Regions from separate parts of the Homo sapiens genome. Here region 1 is linked to region 2. The links come from fine-mapping of genetic effects on gene expression. A gene starts in region 2. The other region holds a variant in brackets. All regions are shown on one strand. Distances are from middle to middle. Region 1 overlaps ADAD2 (adenosine deaminase domain containing 2). Region 2 holds the start of KCNG4 (potassium voltage-gated channel modifier subfamily G member 4).

Region 1 (5,335 bases), 40 kb after region 2:
GATCATTTGAAAAACTGCCTAAGTCGGCCGGGCACGGTGGCTCACGCCTGTAATCCCAGCACTCTGGGAGGCCGAGGCGGGCGGATCACGAGGTCAGGAGATCGAGACCATCCTGGCTAACACGGTGAAACCGCGTCTCTACTAAAAATACAAAAAATTAGCCGGGTGAGGTGGCAGGCGCCTGTAGTCCCAGCTACTCGGGAGGCTGAGGCAGGAGAATGGCGTAAACCCCAGGGGGCGGAGCCTGCAATGAGCCGAGATCACGCCACTGCACTCCAACCTGGGCAACAGCGAGACTCCGTCTCAAAAAAAAAAAAAAAAAAAACCTGCCTAAGTGTTCTGCAGAGGCTGCCGCATTTTCCATTCCCACTAGCAGTGCACGAAGATTGTAATTTCTCCATATCTTTACCAACACTTGCTATTATCTGCCTTTTTTATTATAGCCATCCTAGTGGGGGTAAAGTGATACCACATTTTATTTAAGACAGGAGGTCACTTTGTCACCCAGGCTGGAGTACAGGGTGACAGAATCATAGCTCACCGCAGCCTTGACCCCCGGGGCTCAAGTGATCCTCCTGTCTCAGCCTCTCATGTAGCTGGGACCACATGTGCACACCAACACCCCCGGCTGTCATTAGCATGGTGATGTGCATTTCCCTGATGGCTAATGGTGCTGAGCGTCTTTGCATGTGTTTTATTGCCATTTGAGTATCGTCTTTGTTAATATTATTTGTTTTTGAGATGGAATGTTGCTCTTGTCACCCAGGCTAGAGTGCAGTGGCACGATCTCGGGTCTCTGCAACCTCTGCCTCCCAGGTTCAAGCGATTCTCCTGCCTCAGCCTCCCAAGTAGCTGGGATTACAGGCACCTGCCACCATGCCAGGCTAATTTTTTCTTGTATCTTTAGTAGAGATGGGGTTTCACCAAGTTGGCCAGGCTGGTCTCGAACTCCTGGCCTCAGGTGATCCACCTGCCTTGGCCTCCCAAAGTGCTGGGGTTACAAACCCGAGCCACCATGCCTGGCCTCAGTATCTTCTTTAGAGAAATGTCCATTCATATCCTTTGCCCATTCATTGGGCTGAATTTATTACTGAGCTGTAAGAGTTATTTATATATTGTTGGTATATGCCCCTTATCAGATATATGATTTGCAAGTATATCCTCCCATTCTGTGAGTTTTCTTTTCACTTTGTTGATGGTACCCTTTGAAACACAAAGGGTTTTATTTCGATGGAGTCCCAATTTCTCTATTTTTTCATTTATCATGATGCTTTTGATGACATATCTAAGAAAGTTTTGCCTAACTCAAGGTCATAAAATTTTACTATTATGTTTTCTTCTGAGAGTTTCGCAGTTTTGGCTCTTGTGTTAGGTGTGTGATCCAATTTGAGTTAATGTTTGTGCATGGCACAGAGGGAAGGGTACTTCATCCTGCTGCCTCTGGATACCCAGGAAAATCGATTTTAAAAATATCTTTTAGGTCGGGCGCGGTGGCGTATGCCTGTATTCCCAGCACTTTGGGAGGCCGAGGCGGGTGGATCACTTGAGGCCAGGAGCTTGAGAACAGCCTGGCCTACATGGTGAAAACCCATCTCTACTAAAAATACAAAAATTAGTCAGATATGGTGGCGGGCACCTGTAGTCCCAGCTACTCAGGAGGCTGAAGTAGGAGAATCACTTGAACCCGGGAGGCTGAGATTGCAATGAGACGAGATCGTTCCATTGTACCCCAGCCTGGGCGACAGATAGATAGATAAATCTCAAATATATATGTATCTTTTAAAACTATAATTTTTAAAAAGGTAATTTCACCACTAAACCATGAGGCAAGGTAACAATTTACTTTCCTCTAGACTCTCACTAACTTTTCTCTAGATTCTCACTGACTGCTCCAGGGCATAGGAAAAGGGCTCAGAGCACAGTGGAAATTTTCAAAGTGTCTTCTACAGGGTTTTGAGGACGGGGTTTCTGGTCTCTCTCTATATAGGGGTAGGTTACACTCCTGCAAGTGATCCTCTAACTAATTTTCCATTCAGTGCTTGTTTGTTGGGCACCTTCTATGTGGGAGACCCCCCCAGGAGGAGATGGAGATAAATGCACAAGGCCCCATGCTGGGAGCTGATGGCAGATAGGCCTGATGACAGTCACTGCTGAGGGCTGCCGAGAGAGCCAAGAACAGTGCCAGGCACGCTTCCCCCCTCATCTCACCATGGCCCTGCAGGCTGCATGTCTGTGATCCTGTCTCAGTTGGCAAGTGGGGAAGCTGAGGACTGGGGAGGCAGAGTGGCGCCTTGGCTTCCCAGAGACTTCCCAGGTCCACACTTCCACTCGGCACACTCTGTCCCAGAGTGAAGACAACACATGGGTCAGCACGGAACAGAGGGTGCCCTGAGCTGCAGGAGGAAGTGACGGGATGGCACTCGGAGGAGGCAGCACTTGTGCCAAGTGAGATTACATCACTTCCCAATTCAAATATGCTACTGTTGGTAAAACTTACACCCAGAGGAGAT[G/A]CGGCCAACTAGACATTAACAGATCCGCATTTCAGAAGTAGCTTTCATCATCACCCCGCAGTAATGAACAAGCTGAGTCAAAAGAACTGAGCGACTCTGATGTCACGAAAAGACTGTCTTGGGAGGAAAGCACTGGACAAGCAGATGTATGCAACGTGGGGACAAATATTACTGATTTGGCGGAACACAACAGAGTTAATGTCGATTTGAAAAACTTGTTTATCCAGTGATTATGTGATTAATGAACACCAAAAGGCTCATTGCATCAAACTGAAATTGGAAATGGCTGGTATATTTCCAGATTTGGTTGTAGTTACTACTACAGTACAAAAAGTAAATCAATGTAAACTATTTCCTGGGGAAAACAATGTGTAATACACAGGCTAATAGGCTTGGGTGTTCTTAAACCCCCCTCTCTTAATCCCTGAAAAAAAAGAGCCACGAGAAATCATTATTTCAAGGTTGGCCTGAGAAGTGTTTTCTGTTTTTTTGTTTTTTTAAAAAACCAAAAACTAAAGGTAAAAATCCTTGTCTTCTCAAACAAGAAATCGGTGCTTTCCTGGCTTTCCCGGCCCCGCGGACCCTTCCTGCTGGTGCAAACGCCTCTCTCTGTAGTCCTCCTCCCTCAGCAAGGGCTCACCTCCTGTCCTTTGCACATGTGAATTGCAGCTCCTCCTGCCTCTCAGCTCCCCTCTCCGGCCCTCCCGCCTGCCGTTTTCCCAGCCTGATGCCCCCAGCTCCAGACTCGCCTCCCCGCAGGCTGCCAGCCTGCAGCTCTTCCCTGTAATAGCACTGGGCATCCTCCTGACCTCCTGCAGCAGTCGGGAAAGAGCAGAGCAGAGAACGCGAGGGAACCTTAGGAAGGATATCACCTAGTCCTTGTTTTATAAATGAGCAAACTGGGGCTCAGAGAGGTTCAGAGTTTCATCCAAGGTCACGTAAGGAAATCCAGCTGCAGCCCTGGGTGGTGGCTGCAATCGAAGGGCTTGGAAGCCTGGCGGCCTGCACATCACCACAGCTCCAGCCCACCTCAGGTGCTGGGTGTTCTAGAAGTTACCTAACTGCACCTTGCCAGTTTCCTCACCTGTACACTGAGGCAATGATCGCATCTATCATGGCAAGCTGTGGGAGGTTAAAACAGAACAGACACACCATGCTTCAGGCGTGCTGGAGTTGTCTAGTCTGTCCACTGGTGCTGTTTCCTCTACCCCACCTCCCTCAGATTCTCCCATTTCATCGTCACTGTGGGGAAAGGAGACAGGATGAGCCCAGCGAAAGCAGACGGAAAGCCCAGGCCTGCAGATGGGCAGGCTGGCCAAGAACACACCCCTGGGACCAGCCCTCTGATTATTTCTCTAGATGAGTCAACCTACAAGCACGGAGGTTAAGTGGCTGCCCGTGGCCACGGCCACACACACCCAGTGGCAGAGACAAAAGGGGGTTGGAGGGAGAGGACCCAATCGCACGACTTCAACATTAGGCCTGGCCCTGAGTGACAGCTCTGGAGTGAGCTGTCTGCATCGGTCAGGGTTCTCCAGAGAAACAGAACCAACAGGATATATAGAGATGTATTGCGAGGCATTGACCCACACGATACGGAGTCGAAGCAGTCCCACCATTTGCTGTGTGAGTGCTGGGGGCCCACGTGGTGGCGTTCTAGTCCAAACTCGAAGGCCTGAGAACTGGGAGAACCAATGTTATGAGTCCTGGTCCAAGTCTGAAGGCCAGAGACCCAGGAGTTGTGATGTCCCAGCTCAAGGGGAGAGAGCGAATTCACCTTCCTCTGCTTGCTTGTTGTTTGCAGGCCCTCAGTGGATTGGATGGTGCCTGCCTGCACTGGGGAGCGCCATCTTCTTACTCAGCCCCATAATTAGATGCTAATCCCTCCCAGAGACACCCCACATGGGAGAGTAGCCTGTGGTTCTGAACCCTGCAACTGCTAGGGATGCAGGGAGGGAGTCACAGGGTGGGGGTCACAGGGCTGGCCACGGTCCTCTACTGTCCCTGGCCCCAGGTCCCTGGACTTCAAAGCTGTTGTGCTCCTGGCTCAACGGCTATAGTGCCCATGCTGGTGAGGTTCCAGGTGTGTGTGCGAGTGTGCACGCACACATGCTTTTAGTGTTACCATCTTCTCTCCCCATCCAGAGTCAACAGAGTGCCTGAGTGCCATGTGGCCTTACTATGCTACCCTGGGGGAAACGGAGAGAGAACTGCCGAGCCCACACAGGGCAGGAGCACTGTCCCTCTCCATGGTGGAAGACGCAGGCTCTAGCGGTCCAATGCCTCGCCCAGGTCCAACAGCCGGGCGGCCCAGGGAAAGCACTGATGCTGCTCATGCCCTCCCCACGCCCTTCAACATGGGGCTGCCCAGACCCCACAGCACCCTCGAGGGCCAGGGCAGCTAAAGCTCTGACCAGGGAAGGGTGTTCTCTGCCCTCCCACACATCCTGGGGGCCCAGAAAGGCAAGGATTTGGAGCCCCAATAGCGGCCAGAGGACAAAATGCTCACACATCCAAGCAGCCTGCCCTCCCACCCTTTACAACACCCGCAACCCGTGGCCTCCGTGGTCTCCTCCAGCACACAGGCTGGAAAACAGGAGGAACCAGGGGAGGTCACCTCCCCTCCTAAACCTGCCTCCAGCCCTGTGAACAGGGGCGGGGGTGACAATTCAGTGGCTCAGTGAGAGGATCCAGGTGGGAACCCAGTGAACACAGGGCCTCCCAAAGGAGGAGTGAGGGGCTCTCTCCGCAAACAAAGGGCCCCTGGCCACCCCAACACATAAACACACACACACACACACACACAGCCAACTACACACACAGGA
Region 2 (5,390 bases):
GTTCCTCTATAGGTAAAATGAGGGACCTGCACTAGGTCAGTAAATCAAGCCTTCTTTTAGAAAAGTTTTTGAACAGCAGACTCCTGTATTTACCTAAATCTTTCTTGGGTAATTTGGGGAAAAAAAATTGCTAAGATGGTAATCATAGCCGGGCACGGTAGCTCACACCTGTAATCCCAGCACTTTGGGAGGCAGAGGCAGGTGGATCACTTGAAGCCAGGAGATCAAGACCAGCCTGGCCAACATGGGGAAACCCTGTCTTTACTAAAAAAACAAAAATTAGCTGGGTATGGTGGCAGGTGCCTGTAATCCCAGCTACTCAGGAGGCTGAGGATCAAGAATTGCTCGAACCCGGAGACGGAGGCTCCAGTGAACCAAGATCTTGCCACTTCACTCCAGCCTGGGCAACAGAGCGAGACTCCATCTCAAAAAAAAAAAAAAAAAAAAAAAAGATAATCATAATAATAGCAAGCATTTGAATAGATAGGACTCACTTTTGTGACAGGCAGTCTTCTAAGAGCCTTATCAATGTAAATTGATTTGTTCAAAACTCACAACAAATCGATAGATGCTGTCATCTTCAGGTCACAGACAAAAAAATTTAAGGCACAGAGAGGTTAAGAAATTTGCTCAAGGTCACCCAGCAGGGAATTGGTAAATTCTTGATTTGAACCCATATACTCAGGATCCAGAGAGAACTGAGAGGAATGGGGATAAGTTAGGGGAGATTTAACCAGAAAGGCTAAATCCAGACAAATAAGAAACAGCTGAGAGAGGTGGGGAGACAGCTGGGGTAGGAGGAGGAATCATGAGCTGGAAAGACAATTCTGAAGACTCTTCTAAGAGCACCATTGGAGCAGCTGTGGGGTCTGAGGAACACGGGAGTCAGTGGAAGGAGGGAAGGAAACTTCTCCATTACTGGCAGGTGCTCTGGGATCTCTTTGAGTGGCTCTGTGTGGACACTGGACCATGCTGGGCCACAGCCTTTATTGGGGTTACACTTACAGTCTTATGGAGACAGATCAGAGTGCAGCTGCCATGGCTGAGGTAGCAGGTCCAGGGGTTCATCCTCCCCGTTGTCACTGCCCCAGGCCAGGCCCCTCAATCATTTCTGCAGAGCCCTAAGGCTTCAAGCAATACCATTTGAAAACCGCAATACCAGATGGACCTCCATTCAGTCAGTTCTCTTCTCTGCTTGGATTCGTTCCCATTGCCAAGGCCACAGAGAGCCCACCTAGGTCAGCAGCACCTGTCATCCCCTTGCAGGCAGCTGTGGAAGGCTCACCCTCTAATCTCCCTCACTCCTGGATCCTCCCATCAAAACTCAAGCGTCTGTTAAGTGATGGTTCTTTTTTTTTTTTTTTTTTTTTGAGACAGAGTCTCACTTTGTCACCCAGGCTGGAGTGTAGTGGCGCGACCTCAGCTCACTGCAACCTCCGCCTCCCGGATTCAAGCAATTCTCCTGCCTCAGCCTCCCGAGTAGCTGGGATTACAGGCACCCGCCACCATGCCCAGCTAATTTTTGTATTTTTAGTAGAGACAGGGTTTCAGTACGTTGGCCAGGCTGGTCTCAAACTCCTGACCTTGTGATCTGCCCGCCTCCGCCTCCAAAGTTCTGGGATGACAGCTGTGAGCCACCACACCCGGCCTAAGTGATGGTTCTAACCAGCAAGATGACCTTGAGCAAGCCTCTTCTCAGGGCCTCAACTATCAAATGCAGTGAAGATAACACATTCAGAAGCCAAGAGCCTGGGCTGCAAAACCTCTTAAGAAAGTGAAGAACAGTCAACGTGTAGTGAGCAACTACAAGATGCTGGTTTTACAATTGCAGCCATCGCTGGTTTCACTGTCCTCATTTGACTGAGAAACCCAAGGCCCAGAGAGGGGAAGTGACTGACCAAGAACACACAGCCAGGCAGTGCAGAGTCCAAGTTCACACCCAGGCCCTGGACTGATGCCTCTTCCTTTTCACCCACCCAACCATCCAACCAGCACAGGAGCTTGCACTTATGGTTCTGACCTTCCCTGAACCCTCTCTCATTCCCATGTTTTAGAGACAAGACAATTGAGGCTCAGAAGCACTAACTCACCTGGCCAAGGTCACCCAGCCTTTCACATAGGAGCCAGGATCCAGGCATGTGTGTGAATTCCAAGCTCGGAGCTCTTCCTATTGCTGTTCTGTAACACAGCCCCCCTGACTCCCACCCAGCGCTCAGAGCCTGGGCTTCTGTCTGAACCTGTCCCAGGCCTGGGCTGCTTAAAAGCAGCAAAAAGTTCCTCCTGCAGCTTCAACTTGAGCCTGTCACCATCATCAGCATACCCCGAGAGACTCTGGGGTGCCTGGGACAGGTAGCTGCAGATGCCTCCGGCCCCAAGTTGCCCTCTGCTCCTCCCGAGTTGTGCTCCTCCATGCCAGAGGAGGGAGGACAGCTCCCCTTGCCTCCTAGGCGGTTGGCAGAGTGGCAGCGGCTGCTGCTTCTTCCTGCTGCTGGCTGATGGAGAGATTATTTCTAAGCCCTTCCCATTCCACACCCCCCCACACTGGCTGTCCCCGTGGGACTTGAAGTGCAGAGTCCGCTGCTCAACCAGGACAGCTGCCCTGGCTCCCTCCCAGCAAGAACCCCCAGACCCTCATCTCTCATAAGGAAAGGGACTTCTGGGTCCTTTAAAAAAAAAAAAAAATCCCACCTCAATCCCCCAGGGCTCTCCTGCAGCTGCTGGAGAGAGAGATGCAGAATGAATGAACTTCTGGTTTCTGGAGGAGGCACGGGAAGAAAGATTGGAAACTGACTCTGCTAGAAACTGCTGTTTTGGGGATTTTTTTCTTCCCCTTCATCTCCACCAGAAACCTGTCCCTTCCCTGGGCACCAAGAGATGGGCTCCCCTTGCCTGGCAGAGAAACAGCTGGAAACTGGCTCCCTGAGACAAGAAGGTGAGTTAAACTGGAGGGGAAGAGTTACTGCTTGCTGTAGGGTGGGCGGGGGCCAGGGGGAAGTTGACGCTGTTAGACATCCTTGGCAAAAGTGCTGGTTTGAGTGAATTCCTTTCCCGTGCTCCAGAAGGAGCTGTTTGCCAGCTGTTTGGAGAGCCGTAGATGGCAAAATTGGGTTTATTCAGTGAATGCAGAAAGGGCAGTTTTCAGGTTCTGGAAGGAGCCCCAGGCTGGGGGACAGAGTGCTGGGTTGGATTCGGATTTGCTGTGTGACCTTGGACAAGTTACTTCCGCTCGCTGGGTCTTGGTTTTTGCACTGGGAAAATGAGGAAGCTTGCAAAGGGCTCCCCAGATTTCAAAATACTCTTCTCTCTGCAGGCTCCTCATCCTCCTCTGGCCATTCCCTGTGAGCAAAGTAATGCATTCAGAGCAACAGAATGTTGTGTAGGGAGCAAGAGTGTGAAATAGGTTACGATTCACTCTCCACTATCCACCGGAATCCAACCGGCTCTGAAATTGAGAGGAACTTTGATTTCCGTTCCACTGCCGAGTTTTTCTCTTGATTGGAGTGGAGTGCATCTGAAAATGTAAGCTTATAGATGCTTTGGAAATGGCTTTGGCTAGAATGAATAGCATAAGAAATGGTTGCAGGATCTGAAGGTGAGAAATATTATGAAAAGGACTTTTTAAATATGTGAAGTGGCTAAATCTAAAACACTCACACTAAGTCAAGCACCTCATATAGGTCTGAAATGGAGACAGCATTAGAGGCCCCGTCATTTTTTTTTGTTTTTTTCTTTTTGAGATGGAGTCTCGCTCTGTTGTCCAGGCTGGAGTGCAATGGCGCAATCTCGGCTTACTGCAGCCTCCGCCTCCCGGGTTCAAGCGATTCTCCTGCCTCAGCCTCCCGAGTAGCTGGGACTACAGGTACATGCCACCTTGCCTAGCTAATTTTTGTATTTTTAGTAGATACAGGGTTTCATTGGCCAGGCTGGTCTCGAACTCCTGACCTCAGATGATCTGCCTGCCTCTGCCTCGCAAAGTGCTGGGATTACAGGCATGAACCACTGCGGCTGGAGGCCCCTTCATTCTGCACATAAAAGCCTGCGGGCCCAGAGAGGGGGAGTAACTGGCTGGAGGTCACACAGCAAGGATGGCTGAGGCAAGCACGCAACGAACATGGAGGAGTACTGTGATTGCAAGTACGCAATGCTCCTCCGTCCCCTTAGCAAAGGCCTCCCCAAATGGGGAAGCGACCAAGAGGGATTAAGCGAGACTGGTGGAGTTCCTCCTGAGACCTAGATGCTTGGATGCTCGCTAAGCATAGTCACATTCCTGGGCTACTCGAACCTTTAATAACAGACCCTCGCTGAACCTTCCTGATGTCAGGTGCTTGCTAAACAGTAGGCAAGACACGCAAACCTTCCGTGCGTCAGCCTCCTTATCTATAAAGTGGAGCTCTTATGTCTACTTCATGAGGTTGTTGAGGTGAGTTAGGGGAAGCCAGGCATGTCAGAAGCATCTAGAAGTATTATTAATACACACTTTCTTGTATATTACTGCATATAACCCTTGCCATGCCCTACGATGTGGGCACTCAGACTGCCCCAGTCATACAGATAAAGCAAAGGACTCAGAGACACTGAGTAACCCACCTGTGCTGGCAGTCTGTAAGGGATCGGTCCCTGCCAGTGAACCTGAGAGCCTACATTCTTAAGCTCTATTTTTACTACCTGTACCTTGCAAGATTAGTATGAGTCTTGTCATTTGAATGAATGATGCTGAGATCAGAGAGGTTAAGCCACATACCTGAGACCACAGAGCCCAGAAGTGGCACCGCTCCGACTTGTCCAGCTCAGGACTGAATTACTCAAGCCCCCATCCGTGCAACGTCTATTCTGGAGACATCCTTCTGAGATGTCGGTAGAGGTTCCACCAGGGAAGGGTTTTTTTCACTGATGTATCCCAAGCACATAGTAGGTGCTCAATAAATATGTGTTGAACTAAAGGTTAAAAGAACAAGCCATGCAGATGCAGTCACAGGAAAGCACACGTAAGAACATCTGCAGTCGTGACATCCAGGACTCTTTGCCCCAAGACTGATTTCCCTTCCTTTTGCTTGCTCTTTGTCCCTTGGGTGTCAGACTGGTAAACCCAGCGCTTCCTACCTGGTGGTCTTCAGCAATGCCCATGCCTTCCAGAGACGGGGGCCTGCATCCCAGACACCACCACTATGGTTCCCACAGCCCTTGGAGTCAGCTCCTGTCCAGCCCCATGGAGACGCCGTCCATCAAGGGCCTTTACTACCGGAGGGTGCGGAAGGTGGGTGCCCTGGACGCCTCCCCAGTGGACCTGAAGAAGGAGATCCTGATCAACGTGGGGGGCAGGAGGTATCTCCTCCCCTGGAGCACACTGGACCGGTTCCCGCTGAGCCGCCTGAGCAAACTCAGGCTCTGTC

What was found. PIP is the estimated chance that this variant, and not a neighbour inherited with it, causes the effect. A credible set is the group of variants that fine-mapping cannot tell apart.
Region 1: its variant is the best candidate, but not a certain one, in a credible set for the expression of KCNG4 in prefrontal cortex (GTEx, PIP 0.51).

The regions. Positions count from the first base shown.
Region 1 is chr16:84,197,166-84,202,500 of GRCh38, reverse strand. ADAD2 (adenosine deaminase domain containing 2) reads right to left here. Exons shown (of 10, transcript NM_001145400.2): 10 at 5,335. Among named protein-coding and RNA genes, the nearest start is that of ADAD2-AS1, 2.8 kb to the right of the region's middle. The variant G/A (reference allele first, on the strand shown) is at 2,511.
Region 2 is chr16:84,237,212-84,242,601 of GRCh38, reverse strand. It overlaps KCNG4 (potassium voltage-gated channel modifier subfamily G member 4), which reads left to right and starts at 2,590. Exons shown (of 3, transcript NM_172347.3): 1 at 2,590-2,932; 2 at 5,077-5,390. The coding sequence starts at 5,117.